Homo sapiens: one gene and its partners. The protein of the gene in region 4 purifies or fractionates together with the protein of the main gene of each other region. This does not show direct contact. Each region holds a gene or a part of one and is shown on either strand. Other genes may lie near its edges.

Evidence for each region.
Region 1: the proteins of KLF16 (region 4) and AKAP8 purify together in Homo sapiens (affinity purification with mass spectrometry; one large-scale study listed by BioGRID and IntAct). This does not show direct contact.
Region 2: the proteins of KLF16 (region 4) and CLPX purify together in Homo sapiens (affinity purification with mass spectrometry; one large-scale study listed by BioGRID and IntAct). This does not show direct contact.
Region 3: the proteins of KLF16 (region 4) and AGK purify together in Homo sapiens (affinity purification with mass spectrometry; one large-scale study listed by BioGRID and IntAct). This does not show direct contact.
Region 5: the proteins of KLF16 (region 4) and BUD23 purify together in Homo sapiens (affinity purification with mass spectrometry; one large-scale study listed by BioGRID and IntAct). This does not show direct contact.
Region 6: the proteins of KLF16 (region 4) and SIN3B purify together in Homo sapiens (affinity purification with western blotting, with the first as the bait; one study listed by BioGRID). This does not show direct contact.
Region 7: the proteins of KLF16 (region 4) and PHF6 purify together in Homo sapiens (affinity purification with mass spectrometry; one large-scale study listed by BioGRID and IntAct). This does not show direct contact.

The regions. Positions count from the first base shown.
Region 1 is NC_000019.10:15,362,788-15,366,287, reverse strand, and holds part of AKAP8 (A-kinase anchor protein 8), read left to right. Parts: intron 1-3,500. UniProt on the Homo sapiens protein: Anchoring protein that mediates the subcellular compartmentation of cAMP-dependent protein kinase (PKA type II).
Region 2 is NC_000015.10:65,182,543-65,186,573, reverse strand, and holds the start of CLPX (ATP-dependent clpX-like chaperone, mitochondrial precursor), read left to right. Parts: upstream 1-1,231; 5' UTR 1,232-1,420; coding exon 1,421-1,499; intron 1,500-4,031. UniProt on the Homo sapiens protein: ATP-dependent chaperone that functions as an unfoldase.
Region 3 is NC_000007.14:141,554,410-141,557,909, forward strand, and holds part of AGK (acylglycerol kinase, mitochondrial isoform 1 precursor), read left to right. Parts: exon of another isoform or gene 1-908; intron 909-1,043; 5' UTR 1,044-1,057; coding exon 1,058-1,158; intron 1,159-3,500. UniProt on the Homo sapiens protein: Lipid kinase that can phosphorylate both monoacylglycerol and diacylglycerol to form lysophosphatidic acid (LPA) and phosphatidic acid (PA), respectively. Does not phosphorylate sphingosine. Phosphorylates ceramide.
Region 4 is NC_000019.10:1,853,580-1,857,079, forward strand, and holds part of KLF16 (Krueppel-like factor 16), read right to left. Parts: intron 1,182-3,500; coding exon 880-1,181; 3' UTR 1-879. UniProt on the Homo sapiens protein: Transcription factor that binds GC and GT boxes and displaces Sp1 and Sp3 from these sequences. Modulates dopaminergic transmission in the brain.
Region 5 is NC_000007.14:73,686,597-73,690,096, forward strand, and holds part of BUD23 (18S rRNA (guanine-N(7))-methyltransferase), read left to right. Parts: intron 1-39; coding exon 40-135; intron 136-221; coding exon 222-304; intron 305-402; coding exon 403-499; intron 500-3,500.
Region 6 is NC_000019.10:16,874,398-16,877,623, forward strand, and holds part of SIN3B (paired amphipathic helix protein Sin3b), read left to right. Parts: intron 1-1,657; coding exon 1,658-1,831; intron 1,832-2,088; coding exon 2,089-2,181; intron 2,182-3,147; coding exon 3,148-3,226.
Region 7 is NC_000023.11:134,411,312-134,414,811, forward strand, and holds part of PHF6 (PHD finger protein 6), read left to right. Parts: intron 1-2,176; coding exon of another isoform or gene 2,177-2,179; coding exon 2,180-2,346; intron 2,347-2,511; coding exon 2,512-2,655; intron 2,656-3,500.

The DNA of each region.
Region 1 (3,500 bases), about 14 Mb from region 4:
TAGGGGTCTTTCTCTGTTGCTTGGGCTGTTGAACTAGCCTCAAGAGATCTTCCTGCGTTGGCCTCCCAGAGTACTGGGAGAAGGGTATAGAGATGACATTTTTTTTTTACTACTTTTTGCTTTTTTTTTTTTTCTTTTTGCTTTTTTTTCATCTTGTATGTTCTTCCAATGAACAGGTGACTTTTTTTAAAAAAAAAAAAAGAAACCTTCAGAGTGTGCGCTAGTGACTGAGGATCTTTTTCTTTTTTTTTTTTTTTATCCTTTGAGATGGAGTCTTGCTGTGTCACCCATCCTAGAGTGCAGTGGCACGATCTCAGCTCACTGCAACAGTCCACCTCCTGGGCTCAAGTGATCCTCCTACCTCCGCCTCCCAAGTAGCTGGAATTACAGGCGCCCGCCACCACACCCAGCTAATTTTTGTACTTTTAGTAGTGACGGGGTTTCACCATGTTGGCCAGACTGGTCTCAAACTCCTGACCTCAGGTGATCCACGCACCTTGGTCTCCCAAAGTGCTGGGAGTACAGGCATGAACCACCGCGCCTGGCCATGACTGAGGATCTCGAAGGGACTTGGAGGAATTCTCACGGGGAGGCAGAGGTGTAGCAGGGAAGCACACAGCTCATCAGTAGCTTCCTGACAGTGCTGTGTATGAGCCCCGGGAGATTGTCCCCTCCCCGCCTACGTAGGGGCTGTCTGCAGAAGCGGAGGTGTCTTCATGTTGCTTGTCAGAGGTCAGAAGCCAGGCATGTGGAGTTGGCAGAGGTGAAGTCCTGAGTGCCACAGGGCCTGCACCCCTACACCAGAAGGGGCAGGAGCCTCCAGGAGAGAGCCAGGGAGGGAGCACCCCAGTGTGGTGGCCTGGGGGCCTGCAGGCTGCTCTCCCTTGCCATGCAGCGTGGTTGCATTTGGGGAGACTTTGAAAGCCTGTGACAAAGAAGCCTCACTTTTTATCTGTAGAATTTGATGTGACATGTCTTTACGTGTAGTCTCATGGCAGAACTGATACTGGGTTTTGTGTTTTGAATTGTGCGAGGTGTTTTGTCTGCACGTAAAATGAGGTTGCCTTATGTCATCCCAGTTCCTGCAGAGAGGAACTCATCTGAGAAGCTGTGAAGCTAGATGCTGGGCCCCAAGAGCTGCCAGCCAGAGCCTAGGGCGTCCCCAGTTCCAAGCAGTTGCAGCTTTCTGGTGTTTTCTCAGGGGCTTTGGGGCCAGAGGGGCTGCAGTGCCAGCAGATTACTATGCGAGTCATTTTCCTGAGATACCTGCAAGCCTGTGTTCCCATTCTTCAGCTGGGGAAGTTTGGGTAACTGCCATTCTGTTGCCCTTTGGGAAGTCGGAACTCTTGGTTCAGCAGCCACTTTCCCTGGCTGAGTGCGGTGGCATGCACCTCTAATCCCAGCTACTTGGGAGGCTGAGGTGGGAGGATCGCTTGAGCCCAGGAGTTTGAGAACAGCCTGAGCAATACAGTGAAATCTCATCTCGAGAAAAAGAAAAGTCTGGGTGCGGTGGCTCACGCCTGTAATCCCAGCACTTTGGGGAGGCTAAGGCAGGTGGATCACCTGAGGTCAGGAGTTCGAGACCAGCCTAGCCAACATGGTGAAACCCTGTCTCTACTAAAAATACAAAAAAAAAATAGGCTGGGCGCGGTGGCTCACGCCTTTAATCCCAGCACTTTGGGAGGCTGAGGTGGGTCAATCACGAGGTCAGGAGTTCGAGACCAACCTAGCCACCATGGTGAAACCACGTCTCTACTCACAATACAAAAATTAACTGGGAGTGGTGGTGGGCGCCTGTAATCCCAGCTACTCGGGAGGCTGACGCAGGAGAATCACTTGAACCTGGGAGGCGGAGGTTGCAGTGAGCCAAGATCGCACCACTGCACTCCAGCCTGGGCAACAGAGGGAGACTCCGTCTCAAAAAAATAAATAAATAAAATAAAATAAAAATACAAAAATTTAGCCAGGCTTGGTGGCGGGCCCCTGTAATCCCAGCTACTCGGGAGGCTGAGGCAGGAGAATCGCTTGAACCTGGGTGTTAGAGGTTGCGGTTAGCTGAGATCGCACCATTGCACTCCAGCCTCGGCAACAAGAGCAAAACTCCATCTCCAAAAAAAAAAAAAAAAAAAGGAAAGAAAAAAAATTACTGAAAATCCTGTTTCTTTTTTTTTTTTTTTTTGCCCACTGCCAATTTATTTATTTATTTATTTATTTATTTATTTATTTATTTTTATTGATCATTCTTGGGTGTTTCTCGCAGAGGGAGATTTGGCAGTGTTTGTGTCCCTGGGTACTTGAGATTAGGGAGTGGTGACGACTCTTGGCATGCTGCCTTCAAGCATCTGTTTAACAAAGCACATCTTGCACCGCCCTTAATCCATTTAACCCTGAGTGGACACAGCACATGTTTCAGAGAGCACAGGGTTGGGGGTAAGGTCACAGATCAACAGGATCCCAAGGCAGAAGAATTTTTCTTAGTATAGAACAAAATGAAAAGTCTCCCACGTCTACCTCTTTCTACACAGACACAGCAACCATCCGATTTCTCAATCTTTTCCCCACCTTTCCCGCCTTTCTATTCCACAAAACCGCCATTGTCATCATGGCCCGTTCTCAATGAGCTGTTGGGTACACCTCCCAGACAGGGTGGTGGCTGGGCAGAGGGGCTCCTCACTTCCCAGTAGGGGCGGCCGGGCAGAGGCGCCCCTCACCTCCTGGACGGGGCGGCTGGCTGGGCGAGGGGGCTGACCCCCCCACCTCCCTCCCGGACGGTGCGGCTGGCCGGGCGGGGGGCTGACCCCCCCCACCTCCCTCCCGGACGGGGCGGCTGGCCGGGCAGGGGGGCTCCTCACTTCCCAGTAGGGGCGGCCGGGCAGAGGCGCCCCTCACTTCCCGGACGGGGCGGCTGGCCGGGCGGGGGGCTGACCCCCCCCCACCTCCCTCCCGGACGGAGCGGCTGGCCGGGCAGAGGGTCTCCTCACTTCCCAGTAGGGGCGGCTGGGCAGAGGCGCCCCTCACCTCCCAGACGGGGCGGCTGGCCGGGCGGGGGGCTGATCCCCCCACCTCCCTCCCGGACAAGGTGGCTGCCGGGCGGAGACGCTCCTCACTTCCCAGACGGGGTGGCTGCTGGGCGGAGGGGCTCCTTACTTCTCAGACGGGGCGGCTGCCGGGCGGAGGGGCTCCTCACTTCTCAGACGGGGCGGTTGCCAGGCAGAGGGTCTCCTCACTTCTCAGACAGGGCGGCCAGGCAGAGACGCTCCTCACATCCCGGACGGGGCGGCAGGGCAGAGGTGCTCCCCACATCTCAGACAATGGGCGGCTGGGCAGAGACGCTCCTCACTTCCCAGATGTGATGGCGGCCGGGAAGAGGCGCTCCTCACTTCCTAGATGGGATGGCGGCCGGGCAGAGACGCTCCTCACTTTCCAGACTGGGCAGCCAGGCAGAGGGGCTCCTCACATCCCAGACGATGGGCGGCCAGGCGGAGACGCTCCTCACTTCC
Region 2 (4,031 bases), on a different chromosome or scaffold from region 4:
TCTCAGATGGCTCTGGGTTTTTTTTTTTTTTTTTTGAGACGGAGTCTCGCTCTGTCGCCCAGGCTGGAGTGCAATGGCACGATATCGGCTCACTGCAACCTTCGCCTCCTGGGTTCAAGCAATTCTCCCACCTCAGCCTCCTGAGTAGCTGGGATTACAGGAGTACGCCACCACACCTACCTAATTTTTGTATTTTTAGTAGAGATGGGGTTTCACCATGTGGGTCAGGCTGGTCGCAAACTCCTGACCTCGTGATCCACCTGCCTCGGCCTCCCAAAGTGCTGGGATTACAGGTGTGAGCCACCACGCCCAGCCGGCTCTGTGCTTTTGAATTCATAACTTGAGAGGATGGCCTGATAGGAACCTGACCAGAGGTTATCTATGCAGTGCCATCCTTAATCACGGCCGGGTGCGGTGGCTCACGCCTGTAATCCCAGCACTTTGGGAGGGCGAGGCGAGAGGATCACTTGAGCCCAGGAGTTTGAGACCAGCCTGGGCAACATAGGGAGACCTCATCTTTACTAAATTAAAAAAAAGAAAGAAAGAAAAGAAAACCCTCAAGACTTTAAAGCACCCACGGACTAGCAACAGCTAGAAGCTTTATCACCACGAGGCCTGAAAGAACAAGGAGACGGAGCTGTTACCAACTAACAATTGCTGCTCAGGGAACTAACTGACAATACCAACTCCATGTTACAAGTGATGAAACTAAGGAGAATGAGAAGATAAGGAACACAGGATGTGGAATTCCGGGGGAAGAAATTTAGTGAATCTGAAGCATCCAGCGCCTACCAAGGCACTTTAGAGACTTCCCCCTGGAGGGTTAAGCCACCAGCCTCACCTTGACCTTCCCTGCCGCCCACTAAAAGTGACCGGAAGAGCTCGACTATGACGACTCGGGACTACAAGTCCCGGCATGCATCTCTCCGCGTCTATCGCAAAACCTTTCAACTTTAGGATAAAAGGGCTTTTGGCAACCTTGAGCGTCGGGACCTGTAGTCGCCCCAGTTGGGGCTAGACGCTTGCCGTAGGGAACTCATTGGCGCCCAGGGCACCACCCCCTCGCCTTCGCCTCACGTAGCTTCACCAGCTCGCAAACACGGCGCGTGCCCACGCCCTCCGCCCCCTCCCCGGGCCTAGGGCGCAGGCGCGCGCAAGCTCCCCGGGCCCAGTAGGCTGGGGGTGGGGGTAGAAGGAGAAGGAGGGGAAGGGAGGGGGGGGTTGGGTGTCTACTCTGGTGAATAGACGGCTGTGGGGCAGAGAAGCGTGAAGGCCTGGCTGCCGGGCAGGTGAACTCTCCACGGGGTCTAGGGCCCGCGAAAGGGTTCGGAACCGAGTCAGCGCGCCTTGCGGGCAGGATTCACGCCGCTGTGACCCGGAGGTCCTCAGGGGGCGAAGCCCCGGCCTAGGCCTCGCGGAGATGCCCAGCTGCGGTGCTTGTACTTGCGGCGCGGCGGCCGTCCGGCTCATCACCTCCTCACTCGCCTCCGCGCAGAGAGGTAACGAAATAGTGCCACTCCTGAGCCCTCAGCCTGTCGGGGGGGGGGTGGACTGGCCAATGGTTGGGGGCCCCGGGGAGGGCACGAGGCCTGCTGCACCCGGGGAGTGTGAGGGAATGCGCGGCGCTTCGCCCGGCACCCACCACTTTCCCCGTGGAATGGGGCTCTGCCAACCTCTGGAGCAGCCGTTGCTCAAATTGGAAGTAAACTCCTTCCCACGCGCCTGCCTGCACGCTTTCAGGCCTGCTGACTTTGGGGCCGGAATGCGGCCACTTTGTAGAAACCCTGAAAGGCACAAAATGCTCCTGTTATTAAAAAATGTCTCCAGATCCCACTCAGCCCTGCCGGGGACCGCCGCCTGCCATGGCTGCGGCTCTTCTTCCGCAGCCTGGCCGGGATCCCCCTCGGGCCCGTTGGGGGCTCCAGGAGGGGCTCGGCTGAGGATCTGTCCCTACTAGGGTCCCCCAGGACTCGGGGCACCCAGCTGGCCGTCCCGGACGCAAGCCGCGCGATACCCGAGATGTTACTATCACTGTGCGGCCCTGACACTGGGACATAAACAAGGTTCACAATACTTCCCGGCGTCAGGCAAGCCCCGGGGCCCGCAGGACAGCGGCGGGAGAGATGGGGAGAAGTCCCGCAGGAGTTGGTTCGGAAGTACTTGGGTGTTTCAGCAGTCCTTTGCTGGCTTTCCCAACTTGACCGGGAGGTAGTTTCCTAAGAGTGGCGCATGTTGTTTACCTTTTCTTTCTGTTTATCTGAAGCTGTGAAAGAATGGCGCCCCAGCCAAGAGAGTCTGGAAAATAAACTTTTTTTCTCTTCCTCAAATCTGTGGAAGTCAGACCACGAGGCTAGATCCTGTTATAATGACTGACTTCTAGACAAATTCGTTTTATTTTGGCTTATCGGTTTATGACCCTTGGATGGATTTTTAAAAAGGCCCCTTTTATCTAACTTCTAAGCCAATTATAAAATCCTTATTGTTTACTAAATATATCTTCCAGTTTCTTTACTACAGAAGGAAGGATTGAATGAGGTAACGTGGGCAGAAGCATTTTGTAAAATGATATATAAATGTAAGGGAGTAAATTTAATCCTAAATCGATGTTAAGCCTCAACCAGTAGATGTCCCGATTCCAGGAATTCGATTTGCAAACACTTTAAAGTGACATATTTTAATCCATTTATCTGATATATATTAATATTTGTCAAGGGTCCACTGTGTGTCAGGCCTTCTTTTAGTGCTGGAGGTAGAGTGGTGAATAAGTCCTCACCCTCATGTTTAAATCTAGTGGAGTAGACAAAGAATAATACAGTTTCCAGTGGGTGGATGAAGTATGTGTGTGTTCCCTTTGGTCAGGGACGGCTTCTTTGAAAGTGTTACTGATCTCTTGTAGCCAAGAGTCCGTGAACATTTTTGAATCATAGGAGATAGGCAGTTATTTTTTTTTCTTTTCAAAACGACTGTTTTCTTTCTTTTTCTTTTCTTTTCTCCTTCCTTCCTTCCTTCCTTTCCTTCCTTCCTGTCTTTCTTTCCTTTCTGTCTTTCTTTCCATCTACTATCTGTCTTTCTGTCTGTCTTATTTTCTTTCTTTTTTTTTTTTTTTTTTTTTTGAGACAGAGTCTCGCTCTGTCGCTCAGGCTGGAGTGCAGTGGCCAGATCTCAGTTTACTGCAAACTCCGCCTCCTGGGTTCACGCCATTCTCCTGCCTCAGCCTCCCGAGTAGCTGGGACTGCAGGCGCCCGCCACCACGCCTGGCTAATTTTTGTATTTTTAGTAGAGACGGGGTTTCACCGTGTTAGCCAGGATGGTCTCGATCTCCTGATCTTGTGATCCGTCCGCCTCGGCCTCCCAAAGTGCTGGGATTACAGGCGTGAGCCACCGCGCCTGGCCTCTTTTTGTGTGTCTGTCTTGATGGAATCTGCTAAGTTGCCCGGGCTGGAGTGCAGTAGCGCGATCTCGGCTCACTGCAACCTCCGTCTCCTGGGTTCAAGCAATTCTTCTGCCTCAGCCTCCTGAGTAAGCTGGGGTTACAGGCGCGCGCCACCACGCCCCACTAATTTTTATATTTTTAGTAGAGACGGGATTTTGCCATGTTCGTCAGGCTGGACTCCAACTCCTGGACCCCAGGAGATCACCCGCCTTGGCCTCCCAAAGTGCTAGGATTACAGGCTTGAGCCACCGCACCCGGACTAGTATTTCTTTTTAAAAACAGTTGTTCTGAAATTTAGAAAGCTTTGTCTGTATGATAAAGTTCTGTAAATAGTGAAACTTAAATTGTCTTTTCTGGTTGCTGCCAGGTAATCTGGTGAAATATACTTTACAGAAACACTTCTCTTTTTTGGCTTTCAGAGCTTCACCTGGGGTTTACAGGCCTCCAAAGGGTCCTTGAATAGAATTCAGAGATTCTGTGAACTTTATTTTCACTAAGCTCTAACTGAAACACAACGTTTCCTTGGCCTATGAATGTGGGCAACACATCCACAGTAGTCTTAGAAGTGTCTGTGGATTTGTCATCAATCAAAATCAGA
Region 3 (3,500 bases), on a different chromosome or scaffold from region 4:
AACATAATTGGTATAATGCCAATTATATATGGCTTTTTATCCTGCTAATTTTACTTAACATTATGTTTTGGGTTTTTTCCCCCATCAGTAAAAATTTTGGGTAAAAAAATATTTAATTGCTATTTAACTTATTCATTGAACAAATATTTCTTAAACAGCTATTGTGTGCCGGATCTTACTTTAGGCATGGGATACAGCAGTGACCAGAATTATGTCCTTACTCTCATGGAGTTTACATTCCAGTAGGATTAGGCTAATAAATGAGCAAATGAATATAAGCATCACCAAATAATAAATGTCATGAAGAATAAAGATATTCTATAGTGTCACTCTGTTTTTTAGTAAAGTCTTCCTAATTTACCTTCTTTAAAGGAGTGTATGAGTGTCTATCATTTTGTTATGTCATCAGTGAATATGATCATTTAAAAATTTATTTTGGTCAATAATGATAGTTCTTTGTAATATGCATGTCTGATTATTCAGGAAGTTGAACATTTTTAGATAGCCATGTACATTGCCTCTTCATTGAGTTTTCTATCCATGTTTTCTGTTTCTTTTCCTATTGAGGACCTGGTATTTTCTTCTATTTTGAACTCGCCCTTCATATTATTATTTTTTGGGACACTTACATTATGATGGATAGACAAATGTATACTCTTAAACAGTGGTACAGTGAGGCTGTAAGGAGTTAGAAAAACCAGAGGAAGCCTGGAATTCCCTTCCTCTCTTTCTGCCCCTCCCTCTTCCTTCTATTGCAATGAAGAAATAGTGATCAGAGAGGGAAGAAGTATAGGTTAGGTGGAAATACGTGAAGGAAGAAAGAAAGGTGGATGGATGTGTGGGTGGATGAGAAGATGAAGATGATGGAAATAGAAGGGAGAAGATGAGCTGAGGCCAGAGGAGAAGTGGTAAGGAGGAAGAGGAGTGAGTGGGAAAAAAAGGAGTGAGAGAGGATAAAAGAATGGAAGACAGAGTAATAGGGACATTACATGAAGACCATGGATAAATTATATTTTTTTCTCTTTCCGCCTCTACTAACCTAGCAAATCTCTAGAAGATGACGGTGTTCTTTAAAACGCTTCGAAATCACTGGAAGAAAACTACAGCTGGGCTCTGCCTGCTGACCTGGGGAGGCCATTGGCTCTATGGAAAACACTGGTAACTATCTGACAGCCCCATCCCACCTTTGCATCTGCAGCAAAACAGCCCCAAAGGGCCTCAGGTTAAAATCTTGCTCAGCTGTGCTTATCCCTATAAAACATGTGGTGTAAAAGAAAAATAAATGCTATTCAAAGCAAAAACAAAGACTTCTTGTAACCAGAGCTGGAACTACATGCATACTTATATCCAGTGGTTAGAGAATAAAGTAGAGACATCAGAAAGGAAGCTATTTTTATTCATTATATTTATAGTGGAAGAGATTAAGACATCTTAGAGAAAGAGAAGTCCTTTCCCAAGTTAGTAGTGTGAACCCCCAAAATCTGAGACAGGTCTTAGTCAATTTAGTAAGTTTATTTTGCCAAAGTTAAGGACGTGCGCCTGCGACACAGCCTCAGGAAGTTCTGATGACACGTGCCCAAGGTGGTCTGAGCGCAGCTTGGTTTTATACATTTTAGGGAGATATGACACATCAATCAATATACGTAAGATGAACATTGGTTTTGGTCTGGAAAGGTGGGACAACTTGAAACAAAGGCAAGACAACTGGAAGTAGGAAGGGAGCTTCCAGGTCATAGGTAGATAAGAGACAAATGGTTGCATTCTTTTGAGTTTCTGATTGGCCTCTCTAAAGTAGGCAATCAGATATGTATTTATGTCAGTGAGCAGAGGGGTGACTTTGAATAGAATGGGAGGCGGTGGGGCGCAGTGGCTCATGCCTGTAACTCCAGCACTATGGGAGGCTGAGGCAGGTGGATCATTTGAGGTCAGGAGACCAGCCTGGCCAACATGGTGAAACCCATCACTACTAAAAATACAAAGATTAGCTAGGCAGTAGTGGCGTGCACCTGTAGTCCCAGCTACTCGGGAGGCTGAGGCAGGAGAATCGCTTGAGCCTGGGAGGTGGAGGTTGTGGTGATCCCAGATCGGGCCACTGCACTCTAGCCTGGGTGAGGGAGTGAGACCCTGTCTCAAAAAAAAAAAAAAAAATAAAGAATGGGAGGCATGTTTGCCCCAAGCAGTTCCCAGCTTGACTGTTTTTCTTTAGCTTAGTGATTTTGGGGCCCCAAGATTTATTTTTCCTTTCACAGTAGTAAGCAAGTACTGGAACTCATGTCTCCCTGGCATTTTATTCCTTCCATTTCTTACTATAGTCTCTTGATCTGTCATCAAGGGACACTTACTGAATTTGTTCCTCCATCCCCTGTTACTATCCTCATCTGTCCCATTAGCCTACATTAATTTAAATGAGAAGTAGACTTTCAAACCTTTTGTTTAAATAAAGAATTCAGAGGAGTCATGGATTTTATTAGTCTTCCTGCATGGAGGGAGAAGAAAGTGCCAGAGCTCCTCTTTTAGTTTAATATGGTAATAAGATTTAAATAAACAGAGAAGTTTTTTTGTATAAAAATTATACAAAAGACAGCCAATCAAATTGCAGTCTTTTGGAGATTAAGGACTACATTTTAAGTATGTAGCAACACTGAAATCCAGATGTCTTAAATGACTGCTTTGTTGAACAGAAAACAGAACAGTTACTCTTTGAATTAGAAGTCTCCACATTGGAAAAGAGATTCATATTGATATTTTGTGAACACTCAATTCACCACTGTGAGAATAACTTTATGATATAACATGATGTCTGCTTTTTTTGCAGCTGTGGAAAAATTGCAATACATTCCCCTTCTTTTCTTTCTAAGTGTTGTCAAGGCCAGGCATTCAAATTCCATTAGCCAGCATCTAAGGAAAAAAGCAGACATAAGAAGCTTAAAATTTGTAATTAAGAAAAGGGTGGAGCGGATATTTTAACAAATGGAGCATGGAATGTTTGGCTTCTCCTTTTTCTAACTACACTTGAGTCCTCAAGGCCCCTTTGCTGGAGCATCCAATCTAGGCCATGGCTAGGTCAGTCGGGGAAAATTCCCACCCACTGAGGATTACTGCTGTTTCTACGACTAGGTGAAGATTTGAGGAACTGTGTACTCTGTTCAGGATGTCTTTAGAGGAACCATGATAAGTTCTTGCCCATGTAGCCTTGAGACCTTAAAAAAGGACCATTAAGTCTTCAGGACTAATGGAGGCCTTGTTCTAAATTGGATCTGAAACAGCTTGAGCCAGAAGTGTGGTGGCAGCCTGGAGGCCTCATTTTGCTCTGTCTTCACCCTTGACATTCAATGTTACTGCCCCAAATGCAAACTCTTGTTGTCCTATTGCTTTTCTTTTTCTCAGACTGTTCTCTTGCATGATTTGGTACTATTTAGCCTTTTTAAAAAATTGTGGTGAAAAAACACAGGACATAAACATTTTCACCTTAACCATTTGTAAATCTGCAGTTCGATGGT
Region 4 (3,500 bases):
CGGCCAAAGTCAGCAAGGCAGGGACTGGAGGCCCAAGCCCGGTGCCAGCCTCCCCTGCAGCCTCTCTCACCCACCCACCCAGAGAGGGCGAGCTAGGGCCCCCACACCCGAGGACAGAGGAAAATAAATAAGCCAGGATTCCCTCCCGACCCCACTGAGTCAAATGTTCTTTGGAAGAACCCAGAGGTCCCCTCCCTCCCCATCCCAGGTCTCAGAAGCAACACCTGGAGCCCCTCCGGGCATCCTAACGCTGCCCCACTCCTGGCTCTACCCCCGAGGTCTGGGGGGCCAGGCAGCCCCTACCGTGGGCAGAACTTGTGGACACCTGAGATTGAGTACCCGAATGGGGGGTGGCTGGGCTGCACCCCCATTTCCCTGAACTACTCCCATGGCTTTCGGTGGGGTGGGGGTGGGGTGGGGAGAGGCAGGGGCCGTGTCAACCCCCGACTCCTCTATGGCTGTCTGAACACTTCATCCCAATCTGCAGGGATGGGGCAGGGGGTGCTTTCCCCGGGCCGGCTCCCAGAAGTCCACTCCACCCCCCCAAACCCCACCCCGGGAGGGGGGCAGCAGGGGGTGGTGGAGAGGAGAGGGGAGGACCTCCTAGCTGCCCTGGGGGGGCCCCGTTGCACAGATGGGAAGAAAGTTAGTATCATGGCTATTTACAGACACAAGCCCCCGTCACCCATCCTGAGAGCCACCTCTGAGGTCAGGCAGACCCAGGTCCAGTCTCAGGCCCCCTCCTCACTCTCTGGAGGGGGGCAGGGGTGTCTTCAGGGTTTGCCCACGGCTGGAAGGGGCCCAGGCTCCCCGTGGGTCCTCACTACACCCCTGGATGGCAGAAGCATCCTGGCGGTCAGGGTGGGCTGCACGAGGGCCCTACAGGCCTGCGGGGGCTGGGCTGGGCGCGGGGCTGGGCGCAGGGCTCCCGGCCAGGCTGCAGGGCAGCGAGTCGCTGGGGGAGGTACTGCGGGCACCAGGGCGCCGGAGCAGGTCCGGGTGGAAGCCGGGGTGGCGGCGGGCGTGCTTGGCCAGGTGGTCACTGCGGGTGAAGCGCTTGGAGCACAGAGGGCAGGAGAAGCGCTTCTCGCCCGTGTGCGTCCGGTGGTGGCGGGCCAGCTCGTCGGAGCGGGCGAACTTCTTGTCGCAGCCCTGCCAGTCACAAGCAAAAGGGCGTTCCCCTGGACGGAGAGACAGAGACAGACAGCGGGTCAGCGGGGGCGGGGGGAGATGACAGACACGTTCCAGCAGATCCCAAAGGGTGGCGGGCATTTGTCCCGTGCCGTTTTAGAGGCTGAGCTCTGGTGTGAGTTCAAAACATGGAGAAGCACAAAGAATACAACCCTTACCCGCCCCCCGGTGGCCCAACACGAGACCCTAATAAATAATCCTCTTATTTCCTACCAGCTCTTAGAAAGGACTCTCCGGCGAGCCCAGAATCTGTTAACCGTAAGTAACCGCCGCAGACCCCCAAGGCTGAAGCTCCCCAGGCCCTCGCAGCCTCTGGCCCCAGGCGGGACCCTGGCAGGGATTAGCAAAGGCCTCCCAGTGTCTGTCCCAGGCACAGGCACGCTCAGAAGGCATGCTCGGCCTTCAGGCTGTCCCTGCCCCCCACCCAGGGGCATGCAGGGGCCTCCATCTGTGCATGATCCCCTCCTTTTCCAAATGACCACCTGGGATGCAAAGGCTGGGTTAAGGGGGTACAATCATGGCAACCTCCCTAACCCTCCTGGCCCCTCCACGAGCAAGGGGGCATGGGAGGAACCCGCAGGCACAGTCAGTCTGGGCCCCGATCTCGGGGTGTGGTTAGATGGAAGACAGGCAGGAAAGCTCACAGGGAGGGGAGGGGGCGGGGTCTCCCGGGAAGGGGCGGGGCCCGGCGGGCTGGACTCGCCCCACCCCCACGGGACAGATGGCGCTGGGCAGGGGCGGGCCACCACCCGGCCACTTCCTCCACAGTCCCCTCCCACCGCCAAGGCCGGGCCTCGCCCATCCTGCCCCTAACCAGCCGTCACCATCTGGGCCTGCCTGTGCGCCTCCAGGCGGTGTGGGTCTTTGCTCTAGAACTGTGCCACCCGACCCCTTCCTTTAGCCGGGGTCTCACGCCCACAGCATGTGGCATCGTGATGTCAGCGTCTCCCCAGCAGATAGGGGTCTCCAACGACTGGGGAGGGGCAGGTCAGTCCACCTCCACCCAGGGACCGAAGCAGGACAAAGGGCCCTGCATCCCCGAAGCTCCCACCCTTTCGGGCCCTGCACCAGGTACCCTGGACCCTGGCATTCCGGGACGTTATTCCCGTGACACCCCAGGGTGGGTTGTGTGGATGGAGACCGGATGTGCATGCCCCTCGTGGCACTGGTTGGAGCCCTGAGTAGCAAAAGAGACGTCAGAACCAACTCCCCTGAGTGGCCCCAAAGCCTATTCTCAAGGAAGCCACAGCAGGGCCAGGAGGGTAGTCACCCGGTGGGTTACAAACTGGGCAGCCCACGCCCAGCACTGGAGGTTGCTCTGGCCCTGGGAGCACTCCCACCGGTCCATGAAGAACTGCAGCCAGCCAGGGGCCTAGAAGGACCCACAGCAGGGACCATGGTGAGGGGTACAGAGACGGCGGGAGGGGCACGGCCATGCTCAGGGTGACCGAGTGACATCTCTGCTCTAAGATCAGGGGCTGCCCTGGGGAGCCCAGCTGAGGAGGGGCACGGGAGGGTGGAGGGGTCTGCCCACTGAGGGGCACCAGCGATCACCCGTGACCCAAGAAGAGCTGGAAGAAAAAACCTTCCCTTCTCATCTCATCCTTCCTCCCTGCCACACCCCGACACCCTCAGCAAAACAAGACTGCAGACAGAGACCAGCAGCCCCCCTCCCCAAGAGGTTGTGAATCCAGGCAGCTGGAGAGGGGGAGAGACCAGCTGTCACCAAGACCAACAGTAGCCTCAAATCCCTGGGGCTGCCTGCTCCACACCCCAAGTCTCCCCCAAGCAACCCAGGATGCAGCTGGGGTCGCGGGTCCGCCCCAGCTGGGGGCCGTCTACAACCCAAGCAAGAGGCGCAGAGCAGCCCTGGAAGGGACCCCACTCCCATCTCAACCACTGGGCCCTGACAGCTCCCAAGGGCCTCAGTCTGGGGACGGGGTCTGGCTGTGGGAGCGCGGCTGGAGCAGACCACGGGATTGGGGCTCGCGCCCCTCCAGGGAACATGCCGCCGTGTCGCCATCTTGCAAGGCACAGGCGGGGAGGCGGCAGGAGGGAAGGGGGAACATCCCACGGCTGGGTGCCGGACAGTCAGTTGGTTCACTTCCCCTTTCAGGGCGGCGGGGCTGGTCTCCACTCCCTCTCCCCCAGTTCCACTTTGCAAGGAGGAGCAGGTTGCCGGGGTGGGGGGGGCGACCGGGGCAGGGGCGCGCAGCCGCTGGGAACACAGCTGCCGCACGTAGCTCGGCGGCGGCGGCGGGGACATCCGCAGCCCCAGCCGGCCCCGCTCACGTGGTCCCACTCCCGCC
Region 5 (3,500 bases), on a different chromosome or scaffold from region 4:
ACTCCTTTACCATGTCCACTTGTGTTTCTGCCTTACCAGCTCACGGATGATTGATATCCAGACCAGGATGGCTGGGCGAGCATTGGAGCTTCTTTATCTGCCAGAGAATAAGCCCTGTTACCTGCTGGATATTGGGTGAGATTCTGGGGCCTGGTTCAGATTGTCTAAGGTGGTGAAGTGTCTTTGTAAACTGACCCTGAGTGTCTGGTCATGTCTTCCAGCTGTGGCACTGGGCTGAGTGGAAGTTATCTGTCAGATGAAGGGCACTATTGGGTGGGCCTGGATATCAGCCCTGCCATGCTGGGTAAGTATGTCCTGTCTGGCACCAGGGTGGATTACCCTGATGGGTGTGGAGAAGCCACAGGTATTTCTCTTTCTCTGACTGCCTTTTCTCTAATGTAGATGAGGCTGTGGACCGAGAGATAGAGGGAGACCTGCTGCTGGGGGATATGGGCCAGGGCATCCCATTCAAGCCAGGCACATTTGATGGTTGCATCAGGTGAGGGTCTTTAATTCCTGCTTTTATTTATTTAGAGACAGGGTCTCACTCTATCACTTAGGCTCTAGTGCAGTGTCTGTGATTATGGCTCACACTGCAGCCTCCACCTCCTGGGTTCAGGTGATCTGCCCACCTCAGTCTCCTGAGTAGCTGGGACTACAGGCCCACACCACCGTACCTAGCTAATTTTTTGTTTTTTTGAGATGGAGTCTTGCTCTGTCACCAGGCTGGAGTGCAGTGGTGTGATCTTGGCTCACTGCAGCCTTCGCCTCCCAGGCTCAAGCGATTCTCCTGCCTCAGCCTCCCAAGTAGCTGAGATTACAGGAGCACGCCACCACACCCAACTAATTTTTGTATTTTTAGTGGAGGTGAGGTTTCACTATGTTGGCCGGGATGGTTTCAATCTCTTGACCTTGTGATCCACCCTCCTCGGCCTCCCAAAGTGCTGGGATTACAGGTGTGAGCCACCGTGCACAGCCTAACTTTTTTTGTATTTGTTGTAGAGATGGGTTTTTGCTATGTTGCTCAGGCGATCCACACACCTGGGCCTCCCAAAATGCTGGGATTATAGGTGTGAGCCACCCTGGCCTCTTTCTTCCTGCTTTTAGTCCTGCAAGCCAGTGCCTCCCAAACCTGGCTGTGCAGCAGACTCATGCAGATATTTACAAATACACATCCCATGGGATTTTCAGATTTACAAGGTTAGAGCAAGGCCCAAGAGTGTATTTTTTTGGATTCTAAAACTTTGCAGTCTGGCCAACATGGTGAAACCCAGCCTCTACTAAAAAGCCAGACGTGGTTGTTGTTTTTTTTTTTTTGAGATGGAGGCTCTCTCTGTTGCCCAGGCTGGAGTGCAGTGGCGGGATCTCGGCTCACTGCAAGCTCCGCCTCCCGGGTTCAAGCCATTCACCTGCCTCAGCCTCCCAAGTACTTGGGACTGCAGGCGCCCACCACCACGCCCAGCTAATTTTTTTATATTTTTAGTAGAGACGGGGTTTCACCATGTTAGCCAGGATGGTCTCAATCTCCTGACCTCATGATCCGCCCTCTTCAGCCTCCCAAAGTGCTAGGATTACAGGCGTGAGCCACCGCGCCCAGCCTAAAAAGCTAGACATGGTGGTGGCCACCTGTAGTCCCAGCTAGCTACTCAGGAAGCTGAGGTAGGAGAATTGCTTGAACCCGAGAGGCGGAGGTTGCAGTGAGCCGAGTCCACGCCATTGCACTTCCAGCCTGGGTGACAGAGCAACACTTCATCTCAAAAATAAAACTTGTCTACTATTGCGATTATTTTGCATTGCCGGGTTCGGGCACCACTGGTACAGATTCTGTGTCAGCTTTGTGTGTCTGGTGGGGCAGAGGAGGTGGTCTTTTAGTCTCTAGCGGCCATTTTATGGGCCCCAGCCATCTTGTGGGCCCCAGCAGCCATCTTACTTTATTTGCCAACAGATAACTGGTAGAGAGCGTCTGGACTTGCTCTAATCTCTTAAGTGCTTCACAGTCCTTTCTCTGTAATCAGAGTCGGGTTAAACATCCACATAGCACTTCAATAACAGATCTTAGAATGTTAAAATTGATTAAGTTTTTCTTAGGCTGCTGTGATCAGTTCTGTTTAGTTTTTGGTGTGGTGTGGGAGTGAAAGTGAGAAAATAGGGGAGGAAGTTACAAATCATTACTTGCAGGGGAGACTTCCTTTGGTTACCCTAAGTTGAGTGGTGGGGATGTGAAGTGGGGAGCCAGGTGAGAGGTAAAAATTCAGATTAGAAGATTTTCCTTTTACATCTGGGAACAAGACCCAGGGGGGTTGGGGAATAATTTCAAGGGTAGCAGATGCTTTTTGGTAATGGTCAGATGAGGTGTTTTAAGCTGTGAAAAACCGAAGGCCAGCAGTATGGTCTGTATGTTTCGGAAGGGGATGGTCAGTTTTTGTTTGTCTTCGGGGAGAGGTGAGATGGTATAGCAAACTGTTTTTTTGGAGACGGATTCTTACTGTATTGTCCAGACTGGAGTGCAGTGGCACGATCTCGGCTCACTGCAACCTCTGCCTCCTGGGTTCAAGCGATTCTCCTGCCTTAGCCTCCTGAGTAGCTGGGATTACAGGTGCTCACCACCATGCTTGGCTAATTTTTGTATTTTAGTAGAGATGGGGTTTCACCATGTTGGCCAGGCTGGTCTTGAACTCCTGACTTCATGAACTGCCCGCCTCAACCTTCCAAAGTGTTGGGATTACAGGCGTGAGCCACCGCACCCGGCCCAGACTTTTTTTTTTTTTTTAAACATTTGCTACATGTAAGGCGTACAAGGTGCTGTGGAGTACAGGGAAATGAAACAGTTTCTGCGTGTAAGACTCTCCACGGTTTATTAGGTGCTTTAGGACATGGACCAGGCAACTGAATATAAGGGCATGAGTGGTGTGTGCCCTAGGGAGTCATGGGGCTGCCAGAGCACAGGAAAGCCTTGGGTGGAGGGGCTGCACCTTGAAGGCTGGGAGGAATTTGGATAGTCAAGGAGAGGGTTTCTGAGTGAGGGAACAGTGGGCAGAGGCACAGATGCCGGTGGGAAAGGGGTCTGAGATGAGAGGGATGAACGAGAGATTCCACGGAAGATGGGGTTGAGTGTGGTTGCTTCCTAGAAGGCACTTAAGTGTGTCCTAAGAAGTTTGGGCTTGATGGAGTAGATGATGGGGAGTTGGCAGGTGACGGGATCAGATGTGTGTTTAAGGAAGGTGATTTTCTGGTGAAAGAGGAGAGAGAGTTAGGTGGAAGCATTTGAGCTGGTAGCACTGAGCATTGGTGCGGGGAAGTGAAAGTTGGGAGAGGCTGTGGGACAAGCCAGTGGGGTGGAGGTAGGGCTCTGTGTGTGTACAGCAGGGCGGAGGGGAAGGGCAGGAAGGAAGACATAGTGACTGGTTGAGGTTTTATTTATTTATTTTTTGAGATGGAGTCTTGCTCTGTTGTCCAGGCTGGAGTACAGTGGCACAAGGCTTACTGCAACCTCTGCCTCC
Region 6 (3,226 bases), about 15 Mb from region 4:
CTGGTCTGGCTTTGGTCTGATTTGGTTTGGTTTTGGTTTGGTCTGATTTGGTCTGGTCTGGTTTTGGTCTGGTCTCATCTGGTCTGGTGTGGTTTGGTTTTGATTTGGTCTGATTTGGTCTGCTCTGATCTGGTCTGGTCTGGTCTGGTTTGGTTTGGTTTTGATTTGGTCTGATTTGGTCTGGTCTGGTTTGGTGTGGTTTTGGTTTGGTCTGGTCTGGTCTGGTTTTGGTCTGGTCTGGTCTGATCTGATCTGGCCTGGTTTGGTTTGGTTTTGGTTTGGTCTGATCTGGTCTGTTTGGTCTGGTTTGGTTTGGTTTTAGTCTGGTCTGGTCTGGTTTTGGTATGGTCTAATCTGGTCTAGTTTGGTTGGTTTTGGTTTGGTCTGGTTTGGTGTGGTTTGGTCTGATCTGATCTGGTCTGGTTTTGGTCTGGTCTGATTTGATTTGGTCTGGTTTGGTTTGGTTTTAGTCTGGTCTAGTCTGGTCTGGTCTGGTTTTGGTCTGGTCTAATCTGGTCTAGTTTGGTTGGTTTTGGTTTGGTCTGATCTGATCTGGTCTGGTTTTGGTCTGGTCTGATTTGATTTGGTCTGGTTTGGTTTGGTTTGGTTAGGTTTTGGTTTGGTCTGGTTTGGTCTGGTCTGGTCTGGTTTTGGTCTGGTTTGGTTTGGTTTTGGTTTGGTCTGGTCTGGTTTAGTTTGGTCTGATCTGGTCTGGTCTGGTTTGGTTTTGGTTTGGTCTGGTCTGGTTTTGGTCTGGTTTGGGTCTGGTCTGGTCTGGTCTGTTTGGTCTGGTCTGGTCTGGTCTGGTCTGTCTGGTCTGGTTTGGTCTGGTCTGGTCTGGTCTGTTTGGTCTGGTCTGGTCTGGTTTTGGTCTGGTTTGGGTCTGGTCTGGTCTGGTTTTGGTCTGGTTTGGGTCTGGTCTGGTTTGGGTCTGGTCTGGTTTGGTCTGGTCTGGTCTGTTTGGTCTGGTCTGGTTTGGTCTGGTCTGGTCTGTTTGGTCTGGTCTGGTTTGGTCTGGTCTGGTCTGTTTGGTCTGGTCTGGTTTTGGTCTGGTTTGGGTCTGGTCTGGTCTGGTTTTGGTCTGGTTTGGGTCTGGTCTGGTTTGGTCTGGTCTGGTCTGTTTGGTCTGGTCTGGTCTGTTTGGTCTGGTCTGTTTGGTCTGGTCTGGTCTGGTCTGGTCTGGTTTGGTTTTGGTTTGGTCTGGTCTGGTTTTGGTCTGGTTTGGGTCTGGTCTGGTCTGGTCTGTTTGGTCTGGTCTGGTCTGGTCTGTTTGGTCTGGTCTGGTCTGGTCTGGTCTGGTCGGTTCGGTCTGGTCTGGTCTGGTTTGGTCTGGTCTGGTCGGTTTGGTCTGGTCTGGTCTGTTTGGTCTGGTCTGTTTGGTCTGGTCTGGTCTGGTCTGGTCTGGTCTGTTTGGTCTGGTCTGGTCTGTTTGGTTTGGTCTGGTCTGGTCTGGTCTGTTTGGTCTGGTCTGGTCTGGTCTGGTCTGGTCTGTTTGGTCTGGTCTGCCCACAGCCTGTCAGGATTCTGGTCTCTTCATCCCTGTGTCATGCACTCTCCATCCTGATGTGTTTCTGGCCTTTGTCGACTTCCTCTGTGGGTGAGGTGGGGACTCCCGCAGGAGGCGGGGTGGCCGCACCACCTGCTTTCCTCCCGCCAGCTGCACCACCTCGTGAGCGATGACGTCTGCCTGAAGGTGGTGGAGCTCTACCTGAACGAGAAGAAGCGGGGTGCCGCTGGTGGGAACCTGTCCTCCCGCTGCGTCCGCGCTGCTAGGGAGACCAGCTACCAGTGGAAGGCTGAGCGCTGCATGGCCGACGAGAACTGCTTCAAGGTGAGAGGAGGCCTGGGGCTGGGAACACGCCGGGAGGCCCGGCCGCTCACTCCGCTCTGGACTCAGTCCTGGGTGGACCCTGGTTCAGCGGCTGGGACACCGGCCCTGCTGCAGAGCCCATGAGGTACCTTTGACCTGCAGGAAGCATCAGGGCTTTGGGAGGGTGGCAAAGGCGGGAGGCGGGTGGCCTTGCGAGCCTGCGCTGTGCCGGCTGGGCTGTGCCGGCAGTGGAGGCTGTCAGCGTTCCTGCTCCGCAGGTGATGTTCCTGCAGCGCAAAGGGCAGGTGATCATGACCATCGAGCTCCTGGACACCGAGGAGGCCCAGACGGAGGACCCTGTGGAGGTCCAGGTGAGGCCCTGGCCCCAGTCTGTGCCACGCATACCAGGGAGCGCCTGAGGGCAGCAGCATGGGGCTCCCACCAGCCAAGCGCAGGCCGCGCAGCATCCAGAGACCCTCCCTCTGCAGGCCACAGGCTCTCCTTGAGGCCTGGTGGGTGGGGTTGCCTCCCTCCCTGCTCCCCCACCAGGCTCTCTTCTGTGCCCCCTCTCCAAAGAGCAGACCACTCCTCCTGAGCAAGCGGTTGTGTCCCAGGGCAGGAGGGGAACCAAGCCACCTCTCCCTGGCCCCCGACTCCCACTCAGGGCATCCCGTGGCTGTGACCTCTGCACCTCTTGTGTCAGGGCTGCATCCTGTTCCTAATCCCCAGCAGAGGAGCCACCTGGGCCCAGCTCCCAGTCACAATTTTTGCGGGGACAGATGTTTCCTGCTCACCTCCCGCATCCTGGTGACAGTGAGGCATTGACCCGTGTGTGTCCCCAGGGTGGTCATTGGGGCCTGCAGCTCCCGGCACCTGCCAACAGGTCCAGTGTGTGTGCACATTACTCAGCTAGGCCAACCCCATTCATTTCCTGGGGCTACCACCACAATGACCACAAACCACGTGGCTTCAAACAACAGAAGTCTATTCCCTCAACGTCCTGGAGGTCAGCAGTCCACAACCACAGTGTGGGCCGGGCGGTGCTCCTGCCAAAGGCTCTGGGGCGGATCCTTCCTGCTCTTCCAGCTTCCGGGGGCTTCTGGCGCTCCTCAGCTGTGGCCTGGTTGTGTGAGTCCCGCTGTCACTGGGTCCTCTGTCAAGAGCTATAGTCTGTTGGGGTCTCCGTCAGGGATCAGAGTCCTCTGCAGCGGCTCTCCTCATGCTCTGGCAGTGGGGGGCACAGAACCCCTGTGAGCTCCTGAACTCAGAGTCCAGAGTAAGAGTGGCCATAGCCCTGCTGTAGGGGCATCACGGGCTGTGTCTCTCCCTGTCCCCAGCACCTGGCTCGGTACGTGGAGCAGTATGTGGGGACCGAGGGCGCGTCCAGCTCGCCCACTGAGGGCTTCCTCCTGAAAC
Region 7 (3,500 bases), on a different chromosome or scaffold from region 4:
TGAATCTTTCGTGACTTTTACTATTGATGTTAAAGTTGTTAAAAATTTTTGTGGAATGATTTCATATTTAGAACAAATATGACATGTGGGAAACTAATCATGTTGGCTTGATAATGGAATCAGTTCTTAAGTAATTTTTATAGATGTTTAATAAATAACATTATTAAATGTTATAGATGTTTAATAATGTTATTTATTAAACATCTTATTTGTTTATTGTTATTTATTAAACAACTATTAAATGTTATTTAATAGTGTTATGTATGGTGTTAGTGATGCTTATTTTCATAATAGATAACTGAATATATTATGTGTATACATATGTATAAAACAATGTTTTATATATACATACACATAGATGTCTTAGAATGATTGAAACAGTTATGATTTTTCATTTTGAGAATTTTTAATATTTGGCAAGTGCAAGTAATTCTTTTTTGAGATGGAATCTTGCTCTGTCACCCAGGCTGGAGTGCAGTGGCACAATCTCGGCTCTCTGCAACCTCCGCCTCCCGGGTTCAAGCAATTCTTCTGCCTCAGCCTCCCGATTAGCTGGGACTACAGGTGTGCGCCACCACACCCGGCTAATTTTTTGTATTTTTAGTAGAGACGGGGTTTCACCATATTGGCCAGACTGGTCTCGAACTCCTGACCTCGTGATCTGTTCACCTCGGCCTCCCAAAGTGCTGGGATTACAGGCGTGAGCCACCACGCCCAGCCAAGTGCAAGTAATTCTAACAGCTTTTAGTGAAATTCCATGTCTTAAAAATTGTCAGTTTGAATATTTAAATTAAGTAGTGTATTCTGACATGAAGTTTGCTATCGTGTTAAGGAGAGAAAACATCTTTAATTGACTTCTGTGTCTTCACAGGAAGTTATTCACGTGAATTTATTTTGTTGCCTATAAAACACTATGCAATAACTTTTACCTTTTCCCCTTAACTCCCTCAAGTCCCACCAGAGCTATGTGAAGTTGCACTCATGTAAATTGTTATTAACTGTTTTGCAAACAACCTAATACTTGTAGTTCCCTTAATTTATATATATATTCAAGTATACCAACTGAATTGCCCTTTTCTTATAATAAATGTGCTTTCATTTCTAATAAACAACCTTCAAAGTAGTAGGAAAGATATTAACGTCTGAGCATAGGAGTTGATATGCTTTCTCATTGAGAAATTAGTCTCTAGAATTATAATCAATAACATGGTAAAGGAAAAAATGGCGAAAATATTAGAGCTGTGCCTAAAACTTTCCATAGTTTGAGCCTATGGCAAGTGAACATTTGGTTTTTATTACCCTTTTAAACACTAAATATTAATACATTATCTTATACAGAGGCCTTCAATAAATAAAATATTTATAGTAAACTACTGATGAAACACCTTTCATTATGGTAGAAATTCTTTTCAGATTACTGAGAAATGCAGTTCTCAAATTTCTGCGTAAGTTTTGCTTAATTCATTAAAGCATATGCAACTAACTTGCAACATACTTTTTTTACTGCTTGTATTAGAAATTCTTTTTGTACTTAATATTTGTTTAATTACTTGATCCATTAGTTCAATTGTAAATGACTTCCTTGTTGAATTTGTTCATTCAGTTTTCATGATCGTTTGAAGAGTAATCTAGACCAGTGTTATCCAGTAGAACTTTCCTGTGACAGTGGCAACAGTCCTGTATATGTGCTGTCTAATACAGTTGCAACTAGCCACATGTAGCCAATAAGCTCTTGCAGTGCGGTCAGTGTGACTAAGAAACTGAAGTTTTAATTTTATTTAATTATAACTGACTTAAATTTTTTAAGGCCACATGTTGCTAGTGGCTACTACATTGAATAGCACAGATATATCTACTTTATTTTCATTTAGTTTTCCAAGTTACAGTAAGTGTATTTTCTAGGTAAGTGTTCTAATTTTACAAACTCTTTGAAACCTATGGTAAAAAAAAATAATAATGCAAAAGCAAACTCTAAAAATTAATTTACTAAACTATTTGTATTTGATTTTTATTGCATTTATCTGAAACATTGGGTGGCTTTATTGAACATACCACAGACCATTTCTCCTCATTTCTGGAGACAGTTTCATTCTAAGGAGAAACATATGTCCTAAAGACCCATGAACTAATACTTATTTTGAGATTGGTCCATAAAAAGTTTTTGTTCATTTTTAAGCAGCTGATTTAGAAGAAAGTTTTAATGAACATGAACTGGAGCCCTCATCACCTAAAAGTAAAAAGAAAAGTCGCAAAGGAAGGCCAAGAAAAACTAATTTTAAAGGGCTGTCAGAAGATACCAGGTCCACATCCTCCCATGGAACAGATGAAATGGAAAGTAGTTCCTATGTAAGTAAAAAAAACTGTTGGATTCTTACTTTTGTTGCACCATGAATATTTCATTTAAACTATCTATAGGTAAAGTTCATCATTTGAAATGTTAAGTAAGCTTGAAATACCGATAGCATATTTTCATGATTTTTTTTAAGTTCGTTTTTTCTTTTACATTTGCAGAGAGATAGGTCTCCACACAGAAGCAGCCCTAGTGACACCAGGCCTAAATGTGGATTTTGCCATGTAGGGGAGGAAGAAAATGAAGCACGAGGAAAACTGCATATATTTAATGCCAAGAAGGCAGCTGCCCATTATAAGTGCATGGTAAGCATGGTTCTTTTAAGCCCAATTTTGTTTTTTTGTTGTTTGTTTTTCTTTGTTTCCCCTGTGATCTAAAGCCCAAATGATTTTTTTTTTAAAAATCATTTAGCTAGTAACCAAAAAATTTCCCCCCACCAGCATTAGTATTTTAGAGTTATAAACAGTATATCTTATAATCCCAAATCTTAAGTTTAGATTTTGTTAAATTATAGCCTTTATGTTTTAGTAGGATTTGAAGTAATTCTAATTATAGTTACTGTAGTTAGGATAATCTGTAATTAATTATTTCATAACTATAAAAATTTTGTCTTTATAAGCATGTCATGAAATATATTTTAGACTTTCACTATAACCTAATAATTATCTCTGTTGTACTTAACACTCTATATTACAATTATTCATTTATGAACTTATCTTCCCTAACAGACTCTTAAATTCCTTGAAGATAAGAATAAGTTTTTATCTTGACATCCTTAGGTCCATGCCTGACTTACAGTACACATAAATATCTTTGACTTAGATTGTATTGAATGACTCATCCCATTGATAAGGTTTTTAAAATTACATTATTTATGTCAGAGATTCTTAACCAGAGTGCATGTCAGATTTACCTGGTGAGCTTTTTCCGAAATATGTGCATCTAGGCACCCTGTGGAATAGATCTCGTATATGTCTAGTTTGAAAAAAAAAAATACGCGAGTGATTCTAATCTGCATCTATGGTTGAAATTTGCCAATTTAAACTATTTTTTAAAACTTTGTGGAAATGTAAAATAGTTGAGAATAGAGTGACATTGTTGAAATTTTCATTGCTTAAAGCAGGCTATTTAATCTTGGCTCCACACTGGC